Linked DNA regions of Homo sapiens: regions 1, 2 and 4 are each reported to be linked to region 3. Evidence: microRNA targets listed by miRTarBase, many of them from high-throughput screens and not tested one by one. Region 3 holds a microRNA gene; each other region holds the end of a gene's coding sequence.
Evidence for each region. Region 3 holds the annotated microRNA hsa-miR-5691 (UUGCUCUGAGCUCCGAGAAAGC, at 3,673-3,694, opposite strand). A microRNA usually pairs through its seed, bases 2 to 8, with sites in the 3' UTR of a target mRNA and lowers its output. Matches are read on the target gene's strand: a 7mer-m8 pairs with bases 2 to 8, a 7mer-A1 pairs with bases 2 to 7 and ends in A, and an 8mer does both.

Region 1 (8,065 bases), not on the chromosome of region 3:
TGTCATTGACAGAATCATCATTATGCAACACATGATTGTGTATAGTTAGAATAAAAAAGGAGACACAGGGAGGGGAACAACACACACTGGGGCCTGTCAGGGGAGGGTTGGGTGGAGGGGAGAGAGTATTAGGAAAAAGAGCTAATGCATGCTGGGCTTCATACCTAGGGCATAGGTTGATAGGTGCAGCAAACCCCAGTGGGACATGTTTACCTATGTAACAAATCTGCGTATGCTGCACATGTACCCCGGAACTTAAAAAAAGTTTTTTAAAGTAGAGAGTGTGCCAATTCCTTCAGGAAAGTAGTTTTTCTAGTATTGGTTTTCACTTGGAACACTAAGAAGTATAACGTACTTTAACTTCAGAATCATTTTTCAGCAAATACATTGACAATGCCTGAAAATGCTTCTTGTAGCATTGTTCCAGAAATGCAAGGAGTATAAGCAATTTCGTAATGGGCTAAGATCATGTGGTTCAAGAATAAATGCCAATTAAATGGATTTTGTGTTTTCAGTCAATTGTCCCTTAGGATCACTGTCAAATGAGGCCAGGAGTGAGTGTAAAGGAATGACTACTATGTCTGATTTAACAGTACTGAATTTGAAAATGTGTCAGGAACTGGCTATAATGGCTTGGAGTTCCTAAGGATGATAAATAAAATATGTGTTAAAAGTTTTGCAATTATGTGGTAAGTAGCATAACTCCAGAAATTATGAGGCACCTGCGCAGATGGGTGACCTCCCACCTGCATCCAGTTCAAGCCATGAGCAGGAATAGTCTGGTCATAGAGGAAGAAGTGATGCTGCCAGAGGTGTGAAGAGAGTATCATTTCAACTTGATTGTCTGCAATAGTGTATCCTCTGATAAATCATTGGTGGTCAAGAGAGTCACACCAACTGGTAAGAGAAACTATTGGAAACCTCTGTGCTATGTATCCTGGCCACACTTATTTTTTTTCTAAATCCAAAAGTATATTCTGTTTGCTTACCCAAACTGCATCAGTACACGGACTTTCTGTCAGCTCTTTCCTACTATGATACTTCTCAAGAGAATGGTTGTATACTCATTTTAACACCCATGCTTTGATGAATGATTGAGTGCAGAGTGTTTGGCATTCTGTTTTCATTGATAGAAGTCTATAGTAATGGAATTCAAGGTTGTTGAGAAAAAATTTTATTTGGAAACCAGATGAAAATGTGGCAGAGTTGAATATATTGTGAAAAAAAAGGAGATACTAGTGTTCTTGCTTAGCAAAGTAAGATATGAGTATTTTTTAAACTTTGGATTATAAGATTTTCAAACATACACCAAAATAAAGAGGAGAATATAAAGGCATCAATTTCAACAACGATCGATGTATGCCAATTTTATTCCCTATCATCCATACCCAAAATATCATAGCATTACATCTGTAATTATGTAGAATCAAAATATAAATTGAATTATAATAAACATATTTCTGGCTGGGCACAGTGGCTCACACCTGTAATCCCAGCACTTTGGGAGGCCGAGGCAGGTGGATCACTTGAGGTCAGGAGTTCAAGACCAGCCTGGCCGACATGGCAAAACCCCGTCTCTACTGAAAATACAAAAATTAGCTGGGTGTGGTGGCACACGCCTGTAATCCCGACTACTCGGAAGGCTGAGGCAGGAGAATCACTTGAACCTGGGAGACAGAGGTTTCAGTGAGCCAAGATCGTGCCACTGCACTGCAGCCTGGGCAACAAGAGTGAGGCTCTGTAAGAAAGGGAAAGAAAGAAAGAAAAAGAAAGAAAGAAAGAGAAAAAAGAAAAAAGAAGGAAAGGAAAGAAGGAAGAGAAAGAAGAAAACAACAAATAACATATTTCTGAATTTCATTTTCTATTCATGATAGTACTTCATGAATTTCCACAAGTCATTTCTAAATAATACATGCAGGTAGATTTATTTCGTCCTTTATTAAATATTTAATTTCTTCAGAACCAGGATTTTTAGTAGTGTCTTCCTCTGCAAATACCTCTCAGGACCCAGTACAGTGAGATGCCTAAAATGGTGCTTGATAAATGCTATCTATTGTGAGACACATGCTGTTGTTCTGATCAACATAACTGCTACTGGCAGAAACACATAATCTAATGATGAGAAATGCAGTGTCACTTTCTAATGAAAACCACTCATTAAAACATAAAGTTTATGACAAGAAAATTATATATTTATTTGGTATAAAATTATCACAACCTTCACCTAATAATATCAGCACCTCTATTCCATCTCTTGGTTAAATAAATGAAACAAAAATGGTGATCCAATCATGTAAAGTTACTTGTTTTCTTTCTTTTCATCTTTTCACCACTGTTGAAATGTTCTCTCCAATATATTTAGCTTTTGAAACTTCATGAGAGTGAATGGAAATTCATTCAAATCTGGCTTTGTAATGAGTGGTTCATGGTTTTTGGTTTGTTATTTTTAACCTGACGTATCTGGAAACGTTCCCCTCCCCAGACTTGTTTATTGGCTCTCCTGCTCTCTCTCCTCAAGATCCAAAGCTAAAAAACATGCTGTTGAAAACAAAACAACTCTAGCCAAGGGAAATCTATGCAATGGAAAAGGGATTCTCCAGAATAAAGTGTAACCTCAAAACTGTGCATATTATCTCTCAAACAGGATGAGTACCTTCTCACTGCCAAAGTAGTTGGAGGGACATCAAACACCAGTGATGGGAACACTGAACCTCACATAAGGTAAAGCGATTCAGGAAAGTTTTGGTAAGCTCTCAGGTCCTGAATATAGATATATAAACTTAGGAAATGGTTTTCTCTGCTGAGCGGTTTCCTCAGGAGATTGGTTCCAGGACCTCCATGGATACCTAAATCTGCAGATGCTCAAGTTCCTAATATAAAAGGGCATAGTATATTCATATCACCTATGCACATTTTCCCACATACTTTAAATCATCTCTAGATTACTTATAAACCTATTACAATGTAAATATTATACAAATAGTTGTTATACTGTATTGTTTTTAAATTTGTATTATTTTTATTCTTGTTTTTTTTTTCAGATATTTTTTATCCGTGATTGGTTGACTCCACAAATGTGGAACCCACAGATAGGGAGGGCTGAATGTATTTGCAATATTGTCTCTGATTTATTAGAAAATAAACTAACATGTATACAAGTTACTGAGCTAAACACAACCAGATCCAGAATCATGTGGTAATTGAAATGCTTCACCTGAGCAGCTGGGCTTCAGTGCCTCTGTAACTGCACTGGAACATAAAAGCTACTCCTAGAAACACACAACTCTCTCTCTTTTTGAGTTTCAAATTTCTGAGATAAGTGTCCCACTATCTAGACTAATATGAGTCCGGTTAAAAGTATTAAAGTATCTTTGGGGTATCTATGGAGTGTTTTTCAGGGGAAAAGTCATATGAGCCATGCAGGTACCTGCAGAAAGAACATTCCAGGCAGAGAGAAGAGGAAATGCCAAGGCTCTGAGATGGAAACATGTCTGAAATGTTGGTGAAATAGCCGGCAGACTAGTGATCAGGAGAGAGAGTAGGAGGTGACTTCAGAGATTATCAGTGAGCCCATTGTCTAGAGCCTTATAGCCCACGTAAAGACTTTGGCTTGTATTCTAGGTGAGATGGGAAGCACTTGGAAATTTTAGGCAGGAGAATTATGTGATTTGACTTGACATATTTTAGAACAGTTATGTTTCGAATAGACTGAAAGAGGAAGAACACGGAAGCATGAAGATTAATTAGAAAGCAATAACAATGATCTAGGAAACAAATAATAATGGTTTGGGTCAGGTGTAAGAATGGAGGTAGGAGCTGGATTCTGAATATAAGTACAGAACAAATAGGTTACGCTGGCAAGTAAGATTGAGATAAATCACTGCAGGGTGGGCAGAAAAGAGAGTTCACTAGACAGGAAGCTGGGATTTCTGAGTTGGAGTTTTGGCCAAAAACACATTTACAATGCTACTGGAAGAAAGTCGCTGAAAAGTATGAAAGTCACTGAAAAGTATGAAGTCACTGAAAAGTATGATTTTTCACACCTACAAAAATGGGGTTAATTACCTTCAGGACCTCACAAGACAAATGATTATGACATCTGTGTAAATGTTGGTTTGCTTGGATTGAGTCACTGCTCTATGTGACTTTGTGCAAGTGAATTATTAGCCTGAGCAACTGTGGAGGGAAGGATGAAATCAAATCTGGAATATTTTGAGAACAAACAAAAAATAAAAATATCACCGCTGTGAAGAAATAATTTAAGAAGCTTTATTTTAAAAGGCAAAGGCCGAGCAAAGTCACTCACCTCTTTAATCCCAGACAGGAGGATTTCTTGAAGCCAGGAATTTGAGACAAGCCTGGGCATCATAGTGAGACCTTATCTCAACAAAAAATAAAAAGTTAGCTAGGCATGGTGATGTGTGCCTGTAGTCCTAGCTACTCAGGAGTATGAGGCAGGAGGATCGCTTGAACCCAGGATTTCAAGGCTGCAGTGAGCTATGATGGCACCACTGCACTCCAGCCTGGGTGACACAGTGAGACCCTGTCTCTACAACAAAAATTAAATAAAATACTCTTTCTGAGCTCAGAATAGCCATAGAAGAAAGTTCAAAAAAATTATTTTAATCAAAGCCTTATGATTCCTAGTAGTAATATGGATTTTGTACTCTTTGAACCTAGATTTATGAATTGTTATCAAGGCACGGATTGAGGAATACAAACCAAAAAGAAAACATAAAATGACAAAAAAACCCCTTCATTTGCAGTTTCAGTTTCAGTTAAACACAACAGTCTTCTTCTGTTTTCTCCTCTCTCTAAGCAGGTTTGCACTACTCTGGAATTTTTCTGAATTTTTACTAAGAAGAGAAATACATGACTGAGTTATTCTAAGGGACTCAAAAGTTTACAACTTTCCCAATCTGCTTAAATATGCAAAGCCCAAGCTACCTCTTTCTAATTCACAAATACAAAAAAGCACCCATAGTTGAAAGTTTAGGATAAGTATGGAAGGGTTGGTGAGCAGCCAGCCAGGGTGAGAGGGCAGGAGACATAGAGGAGAAAGCAAGGCTGTGGTGTTCCACATGGAGCCACCTTCTCAGCAGAGAGGCATGCTCTCAATTACCCTTTCCTTCTCCCCTTTATTTCTCTATAACCTCCCAAGTCTTCCCCATAAAACATACCTATCCTAAGTCCAAGTATCTCAACATCCTGAAAAGTAACTGAAAAGCCATTTAATAAGCCAATTTAAATTGAATTATTAACAATAGATAAAAATTAGTCTTTGAGCTTTCTCTGCATTTTGAGGAGGAGCTCCCAGTAATACAATGGCCTAAAGTCCTGGTTAAAAGGTGAAATGCTTAGGTACCATGAAGATAGATGTTTAGCAAGGAGTTCCTTTGAGAAAGACTCATGAAATCTTCCCATAAGGTGGTTTTCTTCTTTGCCAATACTTTAAAACAGTAGTCTTTAGCATTGTCCCTAAGACCATCTCAGGGGGTCCACATAATCAAAAAATTATTGTCATGATAACACCAATAAATTATTTGACTTTTTCACTCTCATTCTCTAATAAATGTGCTCTGAAGTCTTCCAGAAGCTATATGATGTTTGATGTTGGCATCACTCTGATGGCTAATAGGATATATGGTTACACATTTTTGTATTTAAATTTTATCAGTTTTAATTTCAAATATGATAAATATCAACAGATATAATTCACATTACAGAAAAAGCTCTTTGGGATCCTCAATGATGTTTTCAAATGCATAAAGGGGTCCTAAGACCAAAATGTTTAAGAACTGTTGCATTAAGTCATCCTGCCTGATCTAGTACCAATTTAGCAGAGATACTAGAAATACAGCAAAATACAAGGGGTTGGTTCCCACTAAATTCAAAACTATGTGAGCTAATCTGTCTGCAAAGGTTGGTATCTAAAAGCAAAATCAAAAGAACACATATAAAGAAGTGCTGCAGAACTGACAGGGTCATGTCAAAAGGACATAGGCACCAACTCAAAGGAGCTCACACCGGCCAGACATCTGATTTGTGTTTTTGTGATTAGTCAGAAACACCAGCTTATCTTTTTTTTTTTTTTTTTTTTTTTGAGACCGAGTCTCGCTCTGTTGCCCAGGCTGGAGTGCAGTGGCGCTATCTCGGCTCACTGCAAGCTCCGCCTCCTGGGTTCACGCCATTCTCCTGCCTCAGCCTCCCGAGTAGCTGGGACTATAGGCGCCCGGCTAATTTTTTGTATTTTTAGTAGAGACGGGGTTTCACCGTGTTAGCCAGGATGGTCTCGATCTCCTGACCTCGAGATCCGCCCGCCTCGGCCTCCCAAAGTACTGGGATTGCAGGCTTGAGCCACCGCGCCCAGCCCAGCTCATCTTTTAGGAGGGGAAAGATAGAGAGGAGGGGAGGGTTTTACATATGATGGGAAAAGACAAGGATTATCATTCATTTCCACATTTCCCAAGAGAATATCATAAGCCAAATATTTGGAGTCAACACTTTTAATTGTTCAATATTTTACTACAAATATAAGAAACAATACAGAATTAAATAACACATGAAAATCTTGCTATATATATATATAAATATCCAATTTAACAGCGAAAACAACTTACACTTTAATTCCTAGGCCACTGGATAGACACAGACAAAGCAGAAGATACTGAAAAAGCAACTAATTATGGTTATTAAAGATTCAACATCATTCCACTAGCTGGAACAATATCTTTAGAACAAAGGGATTGTATGCTCATATTTGCCTCCTCTGCTATTGGGAAAAGTTAACGCATGGAAAAAGAAGCCAGCAGAGACAAAGCATATGAATTGGCTGACTGCTATACAGGAAATCTCCTAAACATCTGTTTTCATAATGTATTTTCATTATATGAGGCTGAATTTAGAATGACGTAAAATAGGGCTGGGTCATGTTATAAGACAAATGGACAGGGAGGGCATGCTTCTCAAAAAATGTGAGCTATTGTCTAAGACTAACAATATTTATCTAGCTATAAAAATAAGTTAAATGAATAAGTTAAGATTGCCAATGTTACTTCACAATAAATTCAGTCCTATTTGTGTTGGAGTAAATCTCATAGAAGCACATGAAGAACAGCAGTGAAACCAAGGATTCTAGCAAGGCCAGCTATTAGCAAAGCAGTAAGCAGGAACTGGACTAGATACCAAATGATGGGGAAACAGACTCATAGACCTAAGAACATAGGAAGAAGAGATGTAACATCAACAGAAAGGCAAAAGGTAAGCTCTCTGTATTCTTTCTTCTCTCTCTCTTTCAATTCTTCCCCCTTTGCTTATTCCCTTTTTTTTTCTGGAATTACATTTTAAATTAAGTTTTAGAGCTATGTGGTAAATTATTTGGTCCAATTCCTTTATACTTTGGATGAGGTAAAGTGACTAACAGAGGTCCCCACCAGTAGGAGCCCAAGTCAGTCTGTGAGCTCAGTGCTCCTGATACTAACTAAGTCCAGTGCCCTTTCAACCACATAACATGGCATTGCTTTACAAAATCAAGTCCTACAACAGACCTGAGAGGTAAACTGACTTCCTCTTGGGATTCAAACACTGAGTAGCTCAGATGGCAGTAAAAAGTCGTGGGATCCTTAAGGCTTTCGCTCCCACCTCTTTTGCTCTTTCAGGTCCTTTGGAGAATGGCCCCTTTTCCTCCTGCTTTTCTCTTGTGTCAAATTCAAGTAGACCAGGGAATCACTTTCAGGGTGCTGTGTGACTTATTTAGGGCTCTGGATAAAAGAAAAACAAGGTATTAACTTTGGACACTTGTAAATTCTATCATAATACATTTTAAGAAGATAAATAATAGAGAGATTAAGAAACACAGAGTTATTCTAGTGTATATTCATTGGCAAAGATAAAGAAGTAGACATTTCTGACCCAGTATGGTGTGAGGGGACTATGACTCTTTACAAGAACAAAAGTAGGCTGGATGCAGTGGCTTGTGGCTGTAAGCCCAGTGTTTTAGGAGGCCGAGGCGGGAGGATCATTTGAGCCCAGAAGTTCAAGACCAGTCTGGGCAACATAGTAAGAC
Region 2 (8,312 bases), not on the chromosome of region 3:
TAAACTCAGCCTCAGTCTGATAATTTTTATTCTATTCTACTTTTTTTTTTTTTTTGAGACAGAGTCTCACTCCATCAACCGAGCTGGAGTGCAGTGGCATGATCTCCACTCAGCGCAGCCTCCACCTCCTGGGTTCAAGTGATTCTCCTGTCTCAGCCTTCTGAGTAGCTGAGATTACAGGTGCCTGCCACCACACCCAGCTATTTTTTATTTTTTTATTTTTAGTAGAGACAGCGTTTCATCATATTGGCCTGGCTGGTCTCTAACTCCCAACCTCAAGTGATCTGCCCGCCAAAGCCTCCCAAAGTGCTGGGATTACAGGCATGAGCCACTCCACCCGGCCTACTTTTTTTATTTTATTTTATTATTATTATTTTTTTAAGAATGGTTTAGGCTGGGTGCGGTGGCTCATGCCTGTAATACCAGCACTTTGGGAGGCCGAGGTGGGTAGATCACCTGAGGCCAGGAGTTCGAGACCAGCCTGACCAACATGGAGAAACCCCCTCTACTAAAAGTACAAAATTAGGCATGGTGGTGCATGCCTGTTATCCCAGCTACTTGTGAGGTTGAGGCAGGAGAATTGCTTGAACCCGGGATGCGGAGGTTGCAATGAGCTGAGATTGTGCCATTGCACTCCAGCCTGGGCAACAAGAGCGAAACCCTATCTAAAAAAAAAAAAAAAGAATGGTTTAACTCCCTAAATTGATTGCATGGTCCACACTAATGAGTGTTGAGGAAGTATGAAAAACAGTTTAGGCAATGTTTTTTCTTTTTTTGAGACGGAGTCTTGCTCTGTCACCCAGGCTGGAGTGCAGTGGTGCAGTATCGGCTCACTGTAACCTCCACCTCTTGGGTTCAAGCAGTTCTCCTGCCTCAGCCTCCTGAGTAGCTGGGATTACAGGCAACTGCCACCACGCCCGGCTAATTTTTGTATTTTTAAGAGATGAGGTTTCACCATGTTGGTTGGGCTGGTCTCGAACTCCTGACCTCATGATCCACCCACCTCGGCCAAATCCCAAAGTGCTGGGATTACAGGCATGAGGCACCATGCCCGGCCGGCACTGTTTTCTTAAACAGGGAGTAGTGAGAGATAAAACCCATCGCATGTTTTGGAAGGATAAAATTAAGTGGCAGCAAAAATATTTAGGAAATAGACTGGGTAGCAGAATGCAATAATGATGAATAGAGTGAATGGGAATGGAGAGATCACTTCAGAAGTTTTGTTTTGTTTTTGAGACAGTGTCTTGCTCTGTCACCAGGCTAGAGTGTAGTGGTGCAACCACAGCTCACTCTAGCCTTGAACTCTTAGGCTCAAAAGGATCCTCCTGTCTCAGCCTTCTGAGTAGGTGGGACTACAAGTATGAGCCACCTTGCCCAACTTTCAGGCACTTTTTTAAAAGACAGAATATTCTGAACTGAGTGACCAGATATGCAGAGAATGGAAAGGAACAGAACTAGAGAACACTGGTTTCCAGCCCAGGTGGCTGAGTAGATGAAGTGCCTGTTTTTAAAAAGGAATGGGTAAGTCAGGGAAGAGAGGCAAGTATATGTGTATGTAAGATTATCAATTCTATTTTATACAAAGAGAGTTGGTGGGATTTGGAGGAAATTGGTAGCAGGTAACCTGATTATAGCATAGAAGTTGGGATTAGAACCAAACAGAAATAGTTTAACCCCAGAAGGTGTAATTCAAGTTGTGAAAGAGGATGAGATGCCCCAGAAAAAAATAGAGAAGAAAAAGAATGAAGGTAGAACACCTGTGTGGTTCAAAAGAAAAAGGACCCAAGAGGGAGAGAAGTTCCACAAATGGGTGAATTAAGAGTTGCAGGCCGGGCACAGTGGCTCATGCCTGTAATCCCAGCACTTTGGGAAGCCGAGGGGGCGGATCAGGAGTTTGAGGACAGCCTGGCTGACATGGCAAAGCCCCATCTCTACTGAAAATACAAAAATCAGCCAGGCGTGGTGGCACATGCCTGTAATCCCAGCCACCCAGGAGGCTGAAGCAGGAGAATCACTGGAACCCGGGAGGCGGAGGCTGCAGTGAGCCAAGGTCACGCCACTGCACTCCAGTCTGGGTGACAGAGTGAGACTCTATCTCAAAAACAAGAGTTGTAGATGCGGCCAGGCGTTGGTGGCTCACGCCTGTGAACCCAGCACTTTGGGAGGCCGAGGCAGGAGGATCACTTGTGTCCAAGAGTTAGAGACCAGCCCGTGCAACAGGACAAAACCCCACCTCTATTTAAAAAAAAAAAAAAAAAAAAAAAAAAGATGGAACTGGGATACAACGATGAGAGCTGAAAAAACAGCACTCTGTTAGTGTTTTTGTTTTTTTTTTTTTTTTGAGACAGAGTCTCACTCTTGCTCAGGCTGGAGTGCAGTGGTGTGACCTCAGCCTACTTCAACCTTCACCTCCTGGATTCCAGCGATTCTCTTGCCTCGCTCGGCCTCCCGAGTAGCTGGGATTACAGGCTTGTGCCACCACACCCAGCTAATTTTTTTGTATTTTCTAGTAGAGGTGGGGTTTCTCCAAGCAGGTGATCTGCCTGACTCGGCCTCCTAAAGTGCTGCGATTACAGATGTGAGCCACCACGCTCAGCCTATCAGTGTTCTTTCACACAAGATTTGGTAAAAGTAAGAGGGCTGGGCACAGTAGCTCACGCCCAACACTTTGGGAAGCCAAGGTGGGAGGATCACTTGAGCCCAGAACTTCAAGACCAGCCTGGGAAACATAGTGAAAACCCTTCTCTACAAAAAAATTTAAAAATTAACTAAACGTGGTGGCGCGTGGGGCGTGCCTGTAGTCCCAACTTCCCAGCTACTTGGGAGGTTCGGCTAAGCCCAGGTTACAGTGAGCTAGAATCATGCCACTGCACTCCAGCCTGAGCGACAGAAACAGACCAGTCAAAAAAAAAAAAAAAAAAAAAAAAAAAAAAAAAGAGGTACCTTGAGTGAGTGGTAGGAGAAGCCAGAAGCCAAATTCAAAAGGGTTAAGCAGTGAGTGATAGTAAGAAAGTGAAATAAATTCAGGTTCATCCAGACACCTCTCTGATCTAGTCTTGTTCCAGAAACATTGTGGTAGCAGGGTTTTAAACTTTATTTTGCGCTCCGTGACCCTTCAGATAGTGATTTGAATGATTAAGTGAAACTCTTCTTAGGTTAAGTGTCCTAGTCCACGCTAAAATCATCTTGTTGGTCTCTTTGGCGCTGTCAGCGACCAGTATCAGCGCCCGGCTTGTCCCCGCTGCCCGCCGCGTCCCTGGCCCGGATGTGGGAGGCGAAGGCGGTGAGCATTTCCAGAGCGGTGAGATGAGCGCCGCGCATAATCAGGCGATGCCCGTCTCCTGGGGAAGAAACAAACGAGTGAGACAGGGAGGGACCGCAGTGCTGGGGCTTAGGGGCGCGCGGGCTGCTCGCTGTTCCCTCCTGCCCGTCTCCACCAAGCCCACCGAACAGCACGTCCACGCAGGGCTCGGAGCCGTCATGCCTCACGTCCGCAATCACTGAGCAGTTGAGATTAGTGGAGCGGACCTTCTCACTGCTCACCGTCTGCAGGAAGGTCCTACGGTGGAAAAACAGAGGAGCGCCAAGCTGAGGGCTTAAAGCCCCGGCTGAAGGAAGGCGCACCACTTCCCGCTTCTACCCACTTCCCCTTCGTACCTCGTCGATTCCACGTTTTTCTCGAAGGGACAGAACTGAACCCGAACCTGTTTGACAGGCCGCAGACCAAGCCGAGCCAAGGCAGCTGCCATGGTGACCTCCGCCCCGGAAGAACTCGTGCAGGCGGAAGTGTCGCATTGCGTGAGGCCGTGAATGGCTGCGCTTCTGCGGGATAGACTTCCGGCCGCCGGCTGCTTAGCAGGCCTGCGAACCGCAGCTCTGGGCTTCCTAGCCCAGGCGGAGGAAGGCAGGAAAGAAAGAGGTGGTTTCGGCACAACGCATGGGGGAGCCCAAAGTAGGCTGTCAGCAAATACAGCCTATCATGAATAGTCCTCTCATACGACGGTGAAAACCATAAATAAATGGCGCAAAAACCTCTTTGCACGAAAATACGCCCGTTTTCTGCAGCCTTTCCCCTTCTGTACCCTGCTGGGCCACATCTAGGCTAACTCGATCTTAAATCCTGGCTTCTTCCAAAGAGAGAGCACTAACACAAGCCGGGATGATCCACACCAGAAGGTAAACACCATTCAGGTAACTGAAGATTAAACGTAGTGAGCTCTGAATAGCCAAAGCTTAAACGTGAAAGTACTACAGCCCAATATTAGTAAATGACTGAAAATAGTAATAGGAAGGGCAGTACAGGGTAATACTGTCCTTGGGGCTGATCCAGGTATAGAAATGCCTATTAAACCTCTGTGGTTCTCCATGAATTAGCGTAGCTCCCAGGACTTAAGTTGAAGTGCATTCTAGCCAGTTTTCTTTTTTTGAGACGAAGTTTTGCTCTTGTTGCCCAGGCAGGAGTGCAGTGGCGCGATCTCGGCTCACTGCAATCTCTGCCTCCCGGGTTCAAGCGATTCTCATGCCTCAGCCTCCTGAGTAGCTGGGACTACAGGCGCGTGCCACCACGCCCGGCTAATTTTTTGTATTTTTAGTAGAGGCGGGGTTTCACCGCGTTAGCCAGGATGGTCTTGATCGGACCTCGTGATCCGCCCCTCTAGGCCTCCCAAAGTGCTGGGATTACAGGCGTGAGCAGGCGTGAGCCCCCTCACCTGGCCGAGCACTCAACTCTTTATCCCTGAGATATCTTCAGTGATGGAGAACTAGGCCTGAACCTCCCAAGGGTCTGACCTTCAGGTTCCAGGCTATGGTCTTGCTCTTTACTCTGGATTCCAGGTGCTGGAGTGATCTTGGATTTTTTTTTTTTTTTTTTTTTTTTTTGAGACGAAGTTTTGCCCTTGTTGCCCAGGCTGGAGTGCAATGGCACAATCTCGGCTCTCCGCAACCTTCGCCTCCTAGGTTCAAGCGATTCTCCTGCCTCAGCCTCCTGAGTAGCTGGGATTACAGGCATGCGCCACCACACCTGGCTAATTTTGTATTTTTAGTAGAGACGGGGTTTCTCCATGTTGGTCAGGCTGGTCTGGAACTCCCGACCTCAGGTGATCCGCCTGCCTCAGCCTCCCAAAGTGCTGGGATTATAGGTGTGAGCCACCATGCCCTGCCTAATCTTGGATTTTTTTTTTTTTTTTTTTTGAGACAGAGTCTTGCTCTGTCACCCAGGCTGGAGTGCTGTGGCTGGATCTCAGCTCACTGCAAGCTCCGCCTCCCAGGTTCACACCATTCTCCTGCCTCAGCCTCCCGAGTAGCTGGGACTACAGGCACCCGCCACCACGCCCGGCTAATTTTTTGTATTTTTAGTGGAAACAGGGTTTCACCGTGTTAGCCAGGATGGTCTTGATCTCCTGACCTCATGATCCGCCTGCCTCGGTCTCCCAAAGTGCTGGATTACAGGCGTGAGCCACCTCGCCCAGCCCCTAATCTTGGATTCTTAAGCCCAGGCTCTTTGTAGCTTATTCTCCAGTATGCTTTCCTCCAAGCTTCCAGTTCTGGGCTTCCTTAATATGCAATTCCAAATGTCTGGATTTTCCAGCTAGAGATGGGGAGCTCTTAACTTTCTGGCTCCTGGTCCCAGGCTCCTTAGGATTCAGGACTGGTTCCCAGGCAGGAAAAAAACGGCAGGTGCCAACGGGGTCGCTGGTGTTGCCTGAGGGCAAGCCAGGCCTGCTGATTTCCCACCAGGTAGCCCTCCGGGCTAGGTCCCCTTCCTCCTAGTGTGCTTTGCAGCTGACCTGTCTGGGCTGGAGATGTTCCAGGCTGGAGCGGGGGCTCCAAGCTCTCCAGGCTATTGAGGCAGCTGCTGGGCAATTTCGTGGTCTGGACCTCCTGACAAGCACCTGGTAAGGCAGGAGTGGAAGGTAGGTGGCTGCTGGGGATATACTGAAGCCAGATTAATGGTGAGAATAGGGTTTGGGACACACAAAGCAGTGAGCGAAGGGGAGTAACTCACAGCAACAGGGGGGCCTCCTGTGGACTTGAGACTTGGGCAGGGGCTGCTGCAACAGACACAGCAGGGCCCCATCCAGCTGCTGGAAGATGCTGAGCATGAGCAGGGTCTGGCGGAGATCAGGGGACAGGCTCCACTGCTCCTCTTCCAGCAACTCCCTGACCACTCCAAAGTCTTGTTTGAGCTGCAGCGCTCCCTGCAGGCTGAAGGCAGAGGTACAGTATGGCCACTTGACCCTCCTGCCTCTCCCACTTATCCCCTTCCTTTTCCCAGTTCCATTCACCCCCTGCCACTTCCACCTTTACTCCTGACCTGAACCGAATCCCATGGGTAAGAATGTGGTCAAGCCAGGCACCCACGATGGCCGTCAGAGCCTGACCAAGGGCAGGGGCCTGGGCTTGAGGTGGCAACCCTTGCAATCCTTGCAACACAGGCTCCAGTACGGTGCGGACCACTAAACCAGCATACTCACTAGGAGCACTGGGAGGTTCTGGAATAGAGAAGACAGAATATAAGGCTGTGGAGATCCATTGAACCCCTAAATGGAGTGTTTGGGAGAAGAGGGTAGGATTTCAGGAGGGAAGGGTACAGAAGCTGAGGACAAGGATGGAGACAGTGGAGGGGAACCGGAATTTGGAAGGGCTGAGACACTATTACCCCCTTGGAACTCTGGAAGGAGAAGCTGGGATGAGGAGTTACCAGGACAGAGACGAAGCCGCCAGTACCGACCCCGTGGCATGTAGAGCTTGAAACCTTGCATGGCTTGTTTATGACATTCTTGAGAAAAGACACTTAGTGACTCTTCAGGCAGGAGCTGTAGGGATAGGGAGAAAGTAAAAGGGGCTTGTCAAATTATGATGATCCTCTATATCTAAGGAGCTCTATGTCCAACTTGACATCCATAAAACCCCAGAATTGTTGCATAGTTGTGTATGCCTGGCCATTTTTTGAGGAGCAATGCCATAGTTGTCATTGGGTTTTCCAAGAGGTCTGGACCCAAATTATGAACAATTGCCCTAGGATTACCTTGCTCTCCCCAGCTTGGTTCAAAAGATGGAAAATCCTTGAGGTTAATTTTACTATACAAGAGCTTTAAGGAAAAAGAAAGACATACCCTGCCCCCACCCCCGCAACACACACACACACACACACACACACACACACACACACACACACACACACACACACACAGAGCATATGCCAGAAAGAGGGATTGTATGATCTGCAATGGGCAGAAATTGAGGGAAGAAAGGGGAATTACAACGACCTTTTATTTTTGAGGCAGAGTCTTGCTGTGTCGCCCAGACTGGAGTGCAGTGGCGTGATCTCGGCTCACTGCAACCTCTGCCTCCCGGGTTCAAGTGATTCTCCTGCCTCAGGCTCCCAAGTAGGTGGGACTACAGGAGTGCACCACCACACCCAGCTAATTTTTGTATTTTTAGTAAAGACAAGGTTTTGCCATGTTGGTCAGGCTGGTCTCAAACTCCTGATCTCAGGTGATCGGCCTGCCTCTGCCTGCCAAAGTGCTGGGATTACAGATGTGAGCCACTAAGCCACTACACCCAGCCTACAATGATCTTTTGGTTATCACCTACAAAAGGAAGACAAGAACTGTATGTAAACCAGAAGCAATGACTATTTGAATGTTCTGAGACTCAGGAAGTTTTGGAATGTCCTTACATTGAAAGGCATTATTATATATTATTATTCTTCACAGCCCACTCCAGAGCAATATAACCCATAAAGCAAGAAAAGGCCTATATGCTGGGTTTGTTTCTTTGGTTTGATAGGTTGTTTTTGGAGGGAGAGAACACAGCAATAAAGCTGGTTTCTGCTCTACAGCCCATCTTGAGGGAGAGGAACCCCAGTAAATGTGGTTAATGGCAGCTGCTCTGTAAAGAAATGGTAGATGCCAGGGAGCCTGAAGACAGGATAGACCTGGGGGCGGCCAGACATGGAGTGGAGCCCATATGGCTCCTGGCACATCTGACAACCTGTCTAAATCCAAAATCTTCCTCTCTTCTCCAGTAAATGCAAGCCCCCTTCTCCTCCCTTATTTATGTCAAGGAAATTGCCCTTTTGTCAACGGACTTTTGTTAGGAGCCTCTGTACTCAACACTGAGGGAATACAAGGTGCAGAGTGTGTGACAGTCTCTCCCCCACCCACTGGGATCTTATAGTCCAAACAGGAAGAAAACTCACAATGCCTCTTTTTTTTTTTTTGAGACCAAGTTTCGCTCTTATTGCCCAGGCTGGAGTGCAGTTGCGCAATCTCAGATCACTGCAACCTCTGCCTCCTGGGTTCAACCGA
Region 3 (8,312 bases):
CCCCATCTCTACTAAAAATACAAAAATTAGCCGGGTGTGGTGGTGCACGCCTGTAATTCCAGCTACTAGGGAGGTTGAAGCAGGAGAATTGCTTGAACCTGGGAGGCGGAGGTTGCAGTGAGCCAAGACTGCACCACTGCATTCCAGCCTGGGTGACAGAGCAAGACTCTATCTCAAAAAAAAAAAAAAAAAAAAAGAGGGACATCCTTACTTACTAGTATTGTAAATACTACAAATATTCAAAAGATCAAATTCTTCTAGGGTTTGAGTTCCAAACGACAGTACAAAGGATGTATGCTCACTGTTAACCATGACTATCTGTGGATAAATGGATGGGAGGCTCTTTAATTTTTTATTTTACACATTTTGTATTATTTGACTTTTTATAACAATCACATATCATTTTAAAATAAATTTATATATATATATGGCACAATGCCAGTCAATCATTAGTTATTTTAAACTAAATAATAGACTTTTAACAATTCAACTATAAACTGTTAGCAATTCAATTTCATTTGAAATATATCAAACTCAAAAGCCAAGAGTAAGGAAACTCTTGCCAATTGTCATTTAACATCATTTACTAAAAGTGTACTTTATCTAAATAAAGTCAGTGGAATGGTTTTGTGCCACCAGAGAGCACACAGCAACTGGAGGACGTGAGTTATCCACATAGTAAAGAAGTGAACATTTGTTTCCAAAGCAGGGTACCAACATGTGTGAATTCCAGTACAGCAAATAGAATATTTAATACCGAAAGTGTGTGGTATGGAGGAATCAGCAGATAAATGTTCTGGGGAGAGATAGCCTTTTGGCCTCCCATGACATGGCAGGGGGAGGGGGGAAGAGAGAGAGAAAGAGAGAGAGAGCGTGAGCTACTTCATGGATGGATCACCAACCCCACTTGCTATGCACCTGACCAGGACCACACCTTCTCCAATGGGAGCGGTGGGAGCCTCACTCCTCATGCACAAAGGGGAGCTCCCTGAATGATATCCCAAGGGGTGTCACCAGATCCAAACTTGCCCGTCATAATCCCATCTGTTATTCATATTTGCTGTCTATATTTTCTTTTGGTCTTCCCTTCCTTTGTAACAAAGTTCATTGTAAAGATCCCATTTCTTGTCTCAGCTATGCTAAGACAAGGAGATGGGTGGATAGGGAGGATCAGGTCATTGCTACAACACTGCAAAAGCATCTGACAGTCACTTACCTACTTGGTCATCTGTATATTCTGTATCTAGATATTTCATTTGTGGGTTTGTCTGTTTGTTGGAAAAGACTTTGTGTCAAGGTGCTAGTAGACTGAGCCCATCTTACACAATCACTTATTCAAAAATAAGGATGTCTATTCAGTGTCTACCATGTACCAGGCACTGCTGAGCATTATATACTGTTCCAATATTTAGAATCTTTATTACTCAGAGGCCACAGTATGAAACAGATTGGTTTGAAACATCAGGGTCTGGACACTAGGCCATTAAATGGCACCAGAATAGACACTCATTAAAAGTTTTCCTCCTCTGGGTGGGCATAGTGGCTCATGCCTGTAATCCCAACACTTCGGGAGGCCGAGGCCAGTGGATCACCTGAGGTCAGGAGTTTGAGACCAGCCTGGCCAACATGGTGAAACCCCGTCTGTCCTAAAAATACAAAAATTAGCTGGACATGGTGGCAGGCGCCTGTAATCCCAGCTACTTGGGAGGCTGAGGCAGGAGAATTGCTTGGTCTCACACTCCTGGCCGGGGATGAGGAGGCTTCAGTGAGCTGAGATCGCGCCATTGCACTCCAGCCTGGGTAACAAGAGCAAAGCTCTGTCTCAAAAAAGTTTTCCTCCTCATCTAAAGAAGTTAATATGTTTTTCGAAGTGGAAAGAGACTTGGAAGGACTTTCTTACTCATTGTGTAGCTTTAGATCCTGCAAGTATTCAGAAGATCAATTCCCATGGGAGTTAAGCCCAAGTTCTAAAGAGTTTAAAACCTCTCGAAGAGGAAGGGGCCACCAACATACTTGTCAAGGTTGGGTCCAGGAGCAAGGAGGGATACTCAGAGATGAGTTCAGTGCTCCTCATCTAATTTCTTCCTGCAAGGGATGACTATAGACAGTGGGATTTCTCACTCATCCAAAGAAGGACAGCAGCAGGCTGAGTAAATATGAGAAACGTGGGGTTGGGGACAGAGCTAGGGGTGGAGACCTGACTTTCTTTCACTTGCAGGCAACTTGTGTGATCATGGCCACAACTCCTCTGGCCCTCAGTGTCCCCATCTGTGAAATGAGTAATAGCATTGGCCCAGAGCTACCTGAATAGCCCAGTCAGCTCCAATGTGTCATGATTTCCATCTCCAGGAACAGCCTCGAGTGTCCAGTCTCTGGCCAGCTATGAACTTCACAGTTCATGACTCTAGTCCAGATTATAAAATGGCAGAGTCCAAACCACAGGTTCTCAGACCTGCAGCTCTATGGGCTAAAATGCCCCTCTGCACACATCTCTCCAGAGTGAACCTGTAACTCCAAACGAGGAAGGTCCTTGGTGTACTCTGAAGCTTGGCACGTCACAATGCCAAACATTGTGGCCAAAGCCATAAACAGGATGGAGCCTCCTGAGCTGGTAGGGGAGGGCAGGACTCTCTAGCACTCAGACTTCAGGGCAAAGGTACAAACCGCCCCAGGGAGGTGCAGGATCAGCCCTGCTCTGGCAGGCATGGCTCTCCTGATCAGCATGGATGTTTACTTTCTGCCCCAAAACTGAGTGGGACCCAAAGATACTAACACATCTCTTTTCTTTTCCAGAAGCTAGACAAAAGGACATTTCAGAGCCAGATAAAACTGTGTGAGCAGCTCTGGGGAAGACCTAATGTTTCCAGTCCAAGATCTGAAATATATTTCAGAGAGCAGGTGATGTGATTCAGGGGCTGGGGGAAAGGGAGAGGAGGGGCAGTACTTTTACCAACATAAGTGGCCACTGCAAGAGCTAAGGAGGTAGGAGCTTCCCTACAGTCCCCCCACATGGTCCCCAAGGCACTTACCCTCACACTGCCTGCCTTCCCCTTGGTAGCCAGGCTTGCAGGAGCACTTGTAGGAGGTGGGTGTGTTCTGACACAGGGCGTCGGCATGGCAGTCATCTAGCCCTTGGGCACACTCATCTACATCTGCAAAAGAGCACAGCTGACACCTGGTACAGGCTCCCAGGCCATGTGTGATCTGGCCTCGGCCCTGTCTGGCATCATCCTCACCAGCCCACCCCGCTTCACTCCTCACAAGCTACAGCTGCTTGGGATCCCTGGGATAAACCAAACTGTTTCTGGGTCCCTGTTTCCAGGAACAGCCCGGACACTCTACGTGAAATTACCCCCACCATCACCTACTGGCCTTCAGGACTTAGCTCAAATCCACCTCCTCCAGGAAGCCTGCCATGACCCCCATTGTAGCTGCCCTCACCAAGTGCTCGCATATGTATGGCTTTGCATGCACACATCAGGCAGGGTTGTCACTGTTTTCCTTCCTCTCTCTCCACTAGACAATGTCTTGACAACAGACTGCGTCTGTGTCCCTTATGCCAAGCCAGCGCAGTACCTGGCATGTGAGTAGGCAATAGTACCTACATGCCCGCTAAAGGAGGAAAGGACCAAACGGACAGACAAGCTCTGAACACCAAGCAGCTGTCTGTCAGCTTTCTCGGAGCTCAGAGCAAGCTTGTCCAACACAGCCCGTGGGCTACGTGCAGCCCAGGACAGTTTTGAATGCGGCCCAATGCAAATTCATAAACTTTCTTAAAACATTATGAGATTTTTTTTTTATTTATTTATTTATTTTTTTTTTTTGCTCATCAGCTGTCGTTTGTGTTGGTATATTTTATGTGTGGCCCAATTCTTCTTCTTCCACTGTGGCCCAGGTAAGCCAAAAGATTGCACCCCGCTGGTTTAGAGTATTTATGGGAAGTCTGCCCCGGGATCGGAGCAGATGTCATCCAGGGCTCTCAGATGCTGCGAAGCGGGGATGGTGTCCCCATGGCCGGCCCCCTGCACTCCCACCCCTGCCCATCCTCTCAACCTGGAAACCCGCCTTGGCAGAAGTATTTCCTGGGTTGACACTACTCCAGGATATTAATTAAAAACAAAAGCATTTTGAAAGTATTGCAAGTCCAGTAAGCACAGCACGTCCAGAGTCCTCTCTGGAAACCAAAGTTCTCTGCTGAAAACCTAGGCTTGTTGCTGCTTCAGGGTAATTCCCAGATCGGAACAGGCGCTGTTCCGCTGACAGAAAAGTCTCTGGAGCCCACCCCGAAGCCATCAGCAGAACTTGCCGGCCCCCAAAGAAAGAAACGGCAAAGCTGCCACCGCCTCGCGGATGTGCCCGGCCCGGCCCTCAGTTTCCCCGCCTACGCTGAGGCGCGGGACCCCAAGGCCAGGGTCCGCACCCTCCTGCCTGCTCGCCGGCGACGGTCTGACTAGCAGGCGCTCTGGAGGCATCCGGACCGGGGCGGGAACCGTCAGCAGCTCCGGGTCCGAGGCCGGGCCGAAGGACTCAGGGCCCCAGCGGTCGTGGCGCCTTGGCCCGGCCGGCGGGTGAGGTCCCGGGGGGAGCAGAGGCCCCCGCGGAGCTGCAGCCGCCAGCCCCGAGCCCCGCGCGCCCGGCTCTGGACTCCGCCGGGGACCTAAACACTCTTCCTGGCCCTGCCTGCTGTGCCAGGTGCGCCCCCGCGGCCGGACACTCACCCTCCTGCGGCCCCGCGGCACGGCCCCGACCCGGCGGGACGGCCCCCGCCAGCAGCAGCAGTGGCGGCAGCAGCAGCAGCAGCAGCAGCACCGCCCAGGCCGCCCCGGGACGGTTGCGGCCCGCGACCCCCATGGATGGCTCAGCGGTTGCGGGCAGAGGCGGCGGAGTGCGGGCGGTGGCGGCGGCGGCGCGGGGAGGTGTGCGCGGACGCCCTGCCCGCTGCCGCTGCCACCCCCGGCCCGGCCCCGCCCGCCCCCCGAGCCCCGGCCTCATTTTCACACGGTCCCTCCCGGGCCGGGGCGGGAAGCGCAGGCGGGAGCAGTGCCGCCCCGCCCGGCCTCCTCCCGTCCCCTCCCCGGCCTCGGGTGGAGGGGGCGCGGCCGCGGTGGCCCGAGCGCGGCTGTCAGCCTGGCGGGGCGGCAGCACCGTGCCTCGCGCCCCGCGCAGCCCTGGCACCCAGCCCGCTGCCCCCCGCATCCCCGCTCCGCTCCAACGCTCGGAGCCCTCGGTGCCGCGCCTGTTCCAGTGTGTTACAACTCGACCCAGGCCCTCATGTGAGGACAAACAGCCCTTCTAGATTGAAATATTCGGGGTCAGGGCGCCCAGAAAGTGTTCCGTATAGTCCCCAAACCCCAAAGCCATCTTGGGGCTTTCCACGTGGGAGGTGGGAGGTGGGAGTGGAAGGAATTGGGGGTGACTTCCAATTCGGGAAAACAGCTGTTTGAATGGAGAAGGTGACCCTGGCTTCTCTGCCCACCCCAGCACACCCTCTGCACCCTTCTCCACACTGCCCACCCCAGGCCCTCTGGGATCCTCCATCCCACAGCCCTGAGGGCACTGGTCCACTTGTCCCACTGTGGGGCACACTGGGCCTAGAATCCCTGCAAGCTACTTATGTATATCTCAGGGCAGCCTAAGGGGAAGGGGGCTAGAGGTCAAAGGTGAGCCACCAGAGACAACAGACAGCAGCCCCGACTTTGCCGGAGTACAGGTGGCATTTACGATCACCTGAACTCATAAACATCAGGTCTGGCTAGCTTCAAACACAGGCAGGGCCTAGCACCTAGCCTTCCATGAAAGACAGTCCTTGCAAGGGAACAGGTACACAGGGTCTTCCCATATCACACTTGACACGGATGGCTGGAGCCCAATACACCCACCATCACTCCAGGAACAAATATAGTAACAATTTCCGGACGCAACCAAACATCACACTTAGGGATAGTAATGTTCTTCACTGAGCTTCTCCGTATTTATTCAATTTTCTCCTGCGATTATATACATACACATATGTATATATGCAGGCACACGCACGCGCGCACACACACACACACCATTCCTTTGGAGATCAGAAAAAAAATAGATGTCACCAAAAAATCCCCACCTAGCTCATGCACAAAAACTCTTATGTCTTCTTGGGGCCTATCCACAGCCCAGAGCTCCCAGCCTCTGCACCCTCAGTACCCACTGTCTGCCACCCCAGCCCCCGAACATGCCCACGGGGGCCTGCCTCTTTGGGCTGTGGCTAGTGCAGCTGCTTGATGGAGCTATCTGAGAAAATAACTTTTCTGTAGTTGTTTTTCTTTTGACCCTTTCAGTGAAGGCAGGCAGGTTGCGTCCCTCTTTCTGTCTGCGCCTCCCTCCCACTCCCTTTTGTTTGGTGCTGAGAGAGACACTCAGCTATTTCTGGTCATAAGGGTGGTTTTTACACATTTGTAAATCTTCAGTTAGTGAAACGTTCTCTCCACCTTTGTCTTTGTGTCCTTAATGGTAGCCATAAATTACTGCCTTCTTTTCTCTCCACTGCATCAGGCTTCATTGCTTTTGAAATGATCAAAGTTATTTCTTTTAAAATCCAACTAGAAACTGCCCATTGTGTGGCACAGACCTCTTTAGCTCCAGTTAAAGCATATAAATACATAAAGCTGCCCATTAAACTCTAGGGGGAGCCTCCTGCAGCGCCCTTGTGCCTGGCAAAGAAATCACACATGTGCTATTCTTCCCCTTTACCTTTCCCTAACTTGATCTTTCAGTAAGGACATAAATTAATAATGACAAGAATCAGCGCCTTTTTGCCTAAGACTGTCAGCTTTTGTCATGTTTCCCAGAAAAGTCCACCACTGGCACAGATCTCAAAAAATGTTCTGTATCCTATTTTGTTTGCGCTGACATCCTTACAAACGTGCTTTCAGCTGTTGGCTCCCAGACTCCTGGGCAACCTTTTTGACACTTGAGATTAAAGTCAATATGGCTTACAACCGGGAATTTCCACAGGGGGAAGCTCCAGGGGAAAACTGTGTCCAAATGTCAGTGTTTTTGGTGTCAGGAGGAACTTGGTTGGCTCTACTCTGGCTGCAGGCTGCCCTCTATTCTGCAGCTGAGGTCCCCACAAACTTCTCAGAAAGGCCTCAGACACCGTCCCTGGACTGAGGCTAAAGCTCCCTCTTCCTCTCCCTGTCTCCTCTCCACAGGCTGAGAGGCCATGAACCAGGCCTCAGGGGTGCGAAGAGGCAGTCCAGCCAGCCCAGTCACACTGGTGTGGGCCTTTGAGGAGGCTGAAGAAAGCCTGGTAGTGGCCGGCCATGCGTGCCCCTGAACTACACATAAGCAGGTGCCACTCTGCACTCATGGGACACCATTCAGTGCCCACCTTTCTTGACTCCCCCCCCGCCCCCAGCAGCCTCTGACATGTGGACTACTTCTCCCTGGTGGAAACTCTCCTTACCCTTGGTTGTCATCGTGGCAAACTCCTGGTTTTCCTCCTACCTCTCAGGAAATGCCTTCTCCACCATCTTCTAGGAGTCCTCTTTCTATACCCTCTCTCTGGATGGTTCACTCATTCCCTTGATTCCATAATGTCAATCTCCAGCCTGGATTCATCCCCTTGGTTCAATCCCATGTATCCAGTTGCCTACTAGATACCACCTTGATCTTCCCTAGATCCCACCTTGATCTTCCCTAGATCCCTCTGATTGAACATGTTCAAAACGAAGCTCATGACCTAGAAGAAGCTTCTCTGCTTTCTCGAATCTCTGCCTGGTTCAGCCCACCCACCCCTCCACTACTGCCTCCACCATGTCCATCAGGGTGACCCAGAAGTCCTACAGGGTGTCCACCTCTGGCCCCTAGGCCTTAAGCAGCCGCTCCTACACAAGCGGGCCTGGTGCCCATATCAGCTCCTGGAGCTTCTCTCAAGTGGGCGGCAGCAGCAGCTTCCGGGGTGGCCTGGGCACCCGCATGGCTCTGGGTGGAGGCTATGGTGGGGCCAGTGGTATGGGGGGCATCACAGCCATCATGGTCAGCCAGAACCTGCTGAGCCCCCTTAAGCTGGAGGTGAACCCCAACATCCAGGCTGTGTGCGCCCAGGAGAAGGAGCAGATCAAGACCCTCTACAACAAGTTTGCCTCCTTCATCGAGAAGGTGCGGTCCCTGGAGCAGCAGAACAAGATGCTGGAGACCAAGTGGAGCCTCCTGCAGCAGCAGAAGACAGCTCAGAGCGACATGGACAGCATATTCGAGAGCCACATCAACAAACTTCGGCGGTAGCTGGACACTCTGGGCCAGGAGAAGCTGAAGCTTGGCAACATGCAGAG
Region 4 (3,000 bases), not on the chromosome of region 3:
TCTTTTGCCTCAGCACCCCTGTAGCTGAGATTACAGGTGCACACCATCACCCCTGGCTAATTTTTGTATTTTTAGTAGAGATGGGGCTTCACCATGTTGGCCGAGCTGGTCTCGAATTCCTGACCTCAGGTGATCTACCTGCCTTGGCCTCCCAAAATGCTGGGATTACAGGTATGAACCACTGTGCCTGGCTCATTTTTTCTTTTTCATTGCAGTTTTAAAAATATTGATATTGATCCTCAATCCATTATATGTAATTATAAATACATATGTGAATATAGAAATACATATTTTTGCTAAATGATTTGAGAATGAGTTGCAGACATAATACATCACTTATAAATATTTCATTATGAATCTCCTAAGAACAGCATTCTCCTACATAATCACAAATTTATCACGCTCGGGGAATTTAACACTTACAAAATACTTCTGTCTAATACATAGTTAATAATGTTTATAATTGTTTATATTTCCTAAATCCAGGACCCAGTCAAGGTTTATATAGTGCATTTAGCTCTCATGTCTCTATTCTCCTTTGGTGTAGAATAGTTCCTCCATGTTTTGTGTTTTTTTTCTTGTGATATTAGTATTTTCAATGAGTTGAACAGCTGCTTTGCAGAGTTTCTCCCTAAATTTAGATTTGTCTGATAATTTTCTCATCAGTAAATTTAGGACAAGCATTTCTGACAGGACTAGTACACGGGTGGGGCTGTTTTTTTTCAGTACCTCATATTAGGTTTTATTTATTTTTTTCAGACGGAGTCTTGCTCTGTCGCCCAGGCTGGAGTGCAATGGTGTGATCTCAGCTCACTGCAACCTCTGCCTCCTGGGTGGGTTCAAGCAATTCTCCTGACTCCCAAGTAGCTGGGACTACAGGTGACACCACCACGCCAGACTAATTTTTGCATTTTTAGTAGAAACGAGATTTCACCATATTGATCAGGCTGGTCTCGAACTCCTGACCTCAGGTGATCCACCCGCCTTGGCCTCCCAAAGTGTTGGGATTACCGGCATGAGCCACCCACGCCCAGCCTCAGTACTTCATGAGGTTTTAGATGTTCATTGCCTGTTGTTGGTTTCCATATAAATATTAGAATTAACTGCAAAGTCATACAAGAAACCTTGCCAAGATTTTGATTGGAATTGATTTCTATCTAGAGATTACTTGCATCTCTTTATTAGACTTATTCCTAGGAGACGGACATGGTGGCCCACACCTGGAATCCCAGCTACTTAGGAGGCTGAGGCAGGATTACTTGAACCCAGGAGGTTAAGGCTGGAGTGAGCTATGATCCATTACTGCATTCCAGCCTTGGTGACAGAGGGAAAAAATAAATAAATAAATAAATATTTAAATCAATTTATTTCTAAGTACCTTATATTTTCTGTGACATATAAATCTTTTGTATTTAAAGGTTTGTTTTGTTTTTATGGTAAATGGTACCTTTGTAAAAATTACACTTTCTAGCTATTTGTGGCTAGAGATTACTTATGATTTATATTATTTCCAGTAGTTCCTTTTTTATAAACTATATTTTATTTATTTATTTATTTATTTATTTTTGAGACGGAGTTTCACTCTGTCGCTCAGGCTGGAGTGCAGTGGCGCGATCTCAGCTCACTGCAAGCTCCGCCTCCCGGGTTCATGCCACTCTCCTGCCTCAGCCTCCCGAGTAGCTGGACTACAGGCGCCCGCCACCACAACTGGCTAATTTTTTTGTATTTTTAGTAGAGACAGGGTTTCACCGTGTTAGCCAGGATGGTCTCGATCTCCTGATCCACCTGCCTCGGCCTCCCAAAGTGCTGGGATTACAGGTGTGAGCCACCGCCCCTGGCCTAAATTTTATTTATATTATTTGAAACTTAAGACAGATAATGACATACAGTGAAAAGTCCTCCTCTAACCCCTAACCCTGGCCATCTGATTCTTTCCATCTGATTCTTTCCAGAGGTAATCAGTGTAACCAGTTTTTTGCATACTCTCCCAGAACTATTTTATATAGATACAAGTAAATCGTGTACTTATATTTTATATATGTTAGCATTAAATAAATGGCAGGCCTAGTAACAGAAATAAAAGTCACATGGAAGGACTATTGTAGGAAGGACAGTTTGGTTTCATAATCAGATGTTTGTAATGATTATAATGTAATAACTTCACAAACACTCAGGAAAAAGCAAATTATTTAATGGAAAATTCCAAAATACATGAGAGCCATTTCCATTCAATATACTTTGTTACAACAATTCCATGTACTTCCAAAATCAGATGCTTTGTAGACTAGCTTGGCAACATGGTGAAGCCCTGTCTCTACAAAAAATCAGCTGGGCATGGTGGCATGTGCCTGTAGTTTCAGCCACCTGGGAGGATGAGGTTGGGGGGTCACCTAAGCCTGAGAAGTCAAGGCTGCAGTGAGCCATGATCGTGCCACTGCACTCCAGCCTGGGCGACAGAGCAAGACCCTGTCTCAAAAAACAAAACCCAGCAAGACCCCAGTCTTTTAACTTGTGAAGCCCCTTTACTCGTCTTTCAGCGCATACAGCACATCATCCTGGCTGACGTTGAGCCGCACCCGAAGGAGCAGATCGTTCCTGCTGGGCTCCACAAGCAGGAGGCGACAGGAGCCCAGGTGAGAACACACGGCCATGGTCTCTGACATGGTGGGGTACGGCAGTCCCTCCATTCTGCACAGTGCCACATGTTGACTATATATCTAGACACAAATAGCAAGGCAAAGGTTAAGAGGAAATACAATCCTGGGGCTTTTTCTGTTCCTTTCTTTCTTCATTTGGGAAAATCAGACACATGGCCCCCAGGATATCAAACACTCCAGAAGGCATCAGTTGGTGCCCCAGTGGTACACAAAATGCAGAGGCAGAATGGAATGCTAGCCTTGGAATCAGAAAACAGCAGGCCCGAATCCTGGTGCTACCATTTACCTAAATATGTAGACCTGGCCAAGTTACTGCACTCTTTTGAGCTTCAATTTTATCTAT

Region 1: miRTarBase lists CD200 as a target of hsa-miR-5691. Seed matches in the 3' UTR shown: 7mer-A1 at 7,647-7,653.
Region 2: the mRNA of CCDC142 is a reported target of hsa-miR-5691. Seed matches in the 3' UTR shown: 8mer at 5,202-5,209, 7mer-A1 at 4,811-4,817 and 7mer-A1 at 4,438-4,444.
Region 4: the mRNA of ORC1 is a reported target of hsa-miR-5691. The part of its 3' UTR that is shown has no 7-base or 8-base seed match.

What each region holds. Positions count from the first base shown.
Region 1 is chr3:112,361,238-112,369,302 of GRCh38, reverse strand. CD200 (CD200 molecule) reads right to left here. Exons shown (of 6, transcript NM_005944.7): 6 at 6,491-7,760. The coding sequence ends at 7,753. Among named protein-coding and RNA genes, the nearest start is that of CD200, 32 kb to the right of the region's middle.
Region 2 is chr2:74,468,912-74,477,223 of GRCh38, forward strand. It overlaps CCDC142 (coiled-coil domain containing 142), which reads right to left. Exons shown (of 9, transcript NM_001365575.2): 6 at 6,701-6,815; 7 at 6,314-6,491; 8 at 6,005-6,204; 9 at 3,921-5,891. The coding sequence ends at 5,635. MRPL53 (mitochondrial ribosomal protein L53) reads right to left here and starts at 3,769. Exons shown (of 3, transcript NM_053050.5): 1 at 3,658-3,769; 2 at 3,447-3,559; 3 at 3,071-3,341. The coding sequence starts at 3,749. The coding sequence ends at 3,208. RefSeq lists enhancers at 3,178-3,307, 3,708-3,807.
Region 3 is chr11:9,086,678-9,094,989 of GRCh38, forward strand. It overlaps MIR5691 (microRNA 5691), which reads right to left and starts at 3,702; the gene lies at 3,635-3,702. It overlaps SCUBE2 (signal peptide, CUB domain and EGF like domain containing 2), which reads right to left and starts at 4,922. Exons shown (of 23, transcript NM_001367977.2): 1 at 4,719-4,922; 2 at 3,030-3,152. The coding sequence starts at 4,851. It also overlaps the pseudogene KRT8P41.
Region 4 is chr1:52,370,659-52,373,658 of GRCh38, forward strand. It overlaps ORC1 (origin recognition complex subunit 1), which reads right to left. Exons shown (of 17, transcript NM_004153.4): 17 at 2,171-2,717. The coding sequence ends at 2,523. Among named protein-coding and RNA genes, the nearest start is that of CC2D1B, 6.0 kb to the left of the region's middle.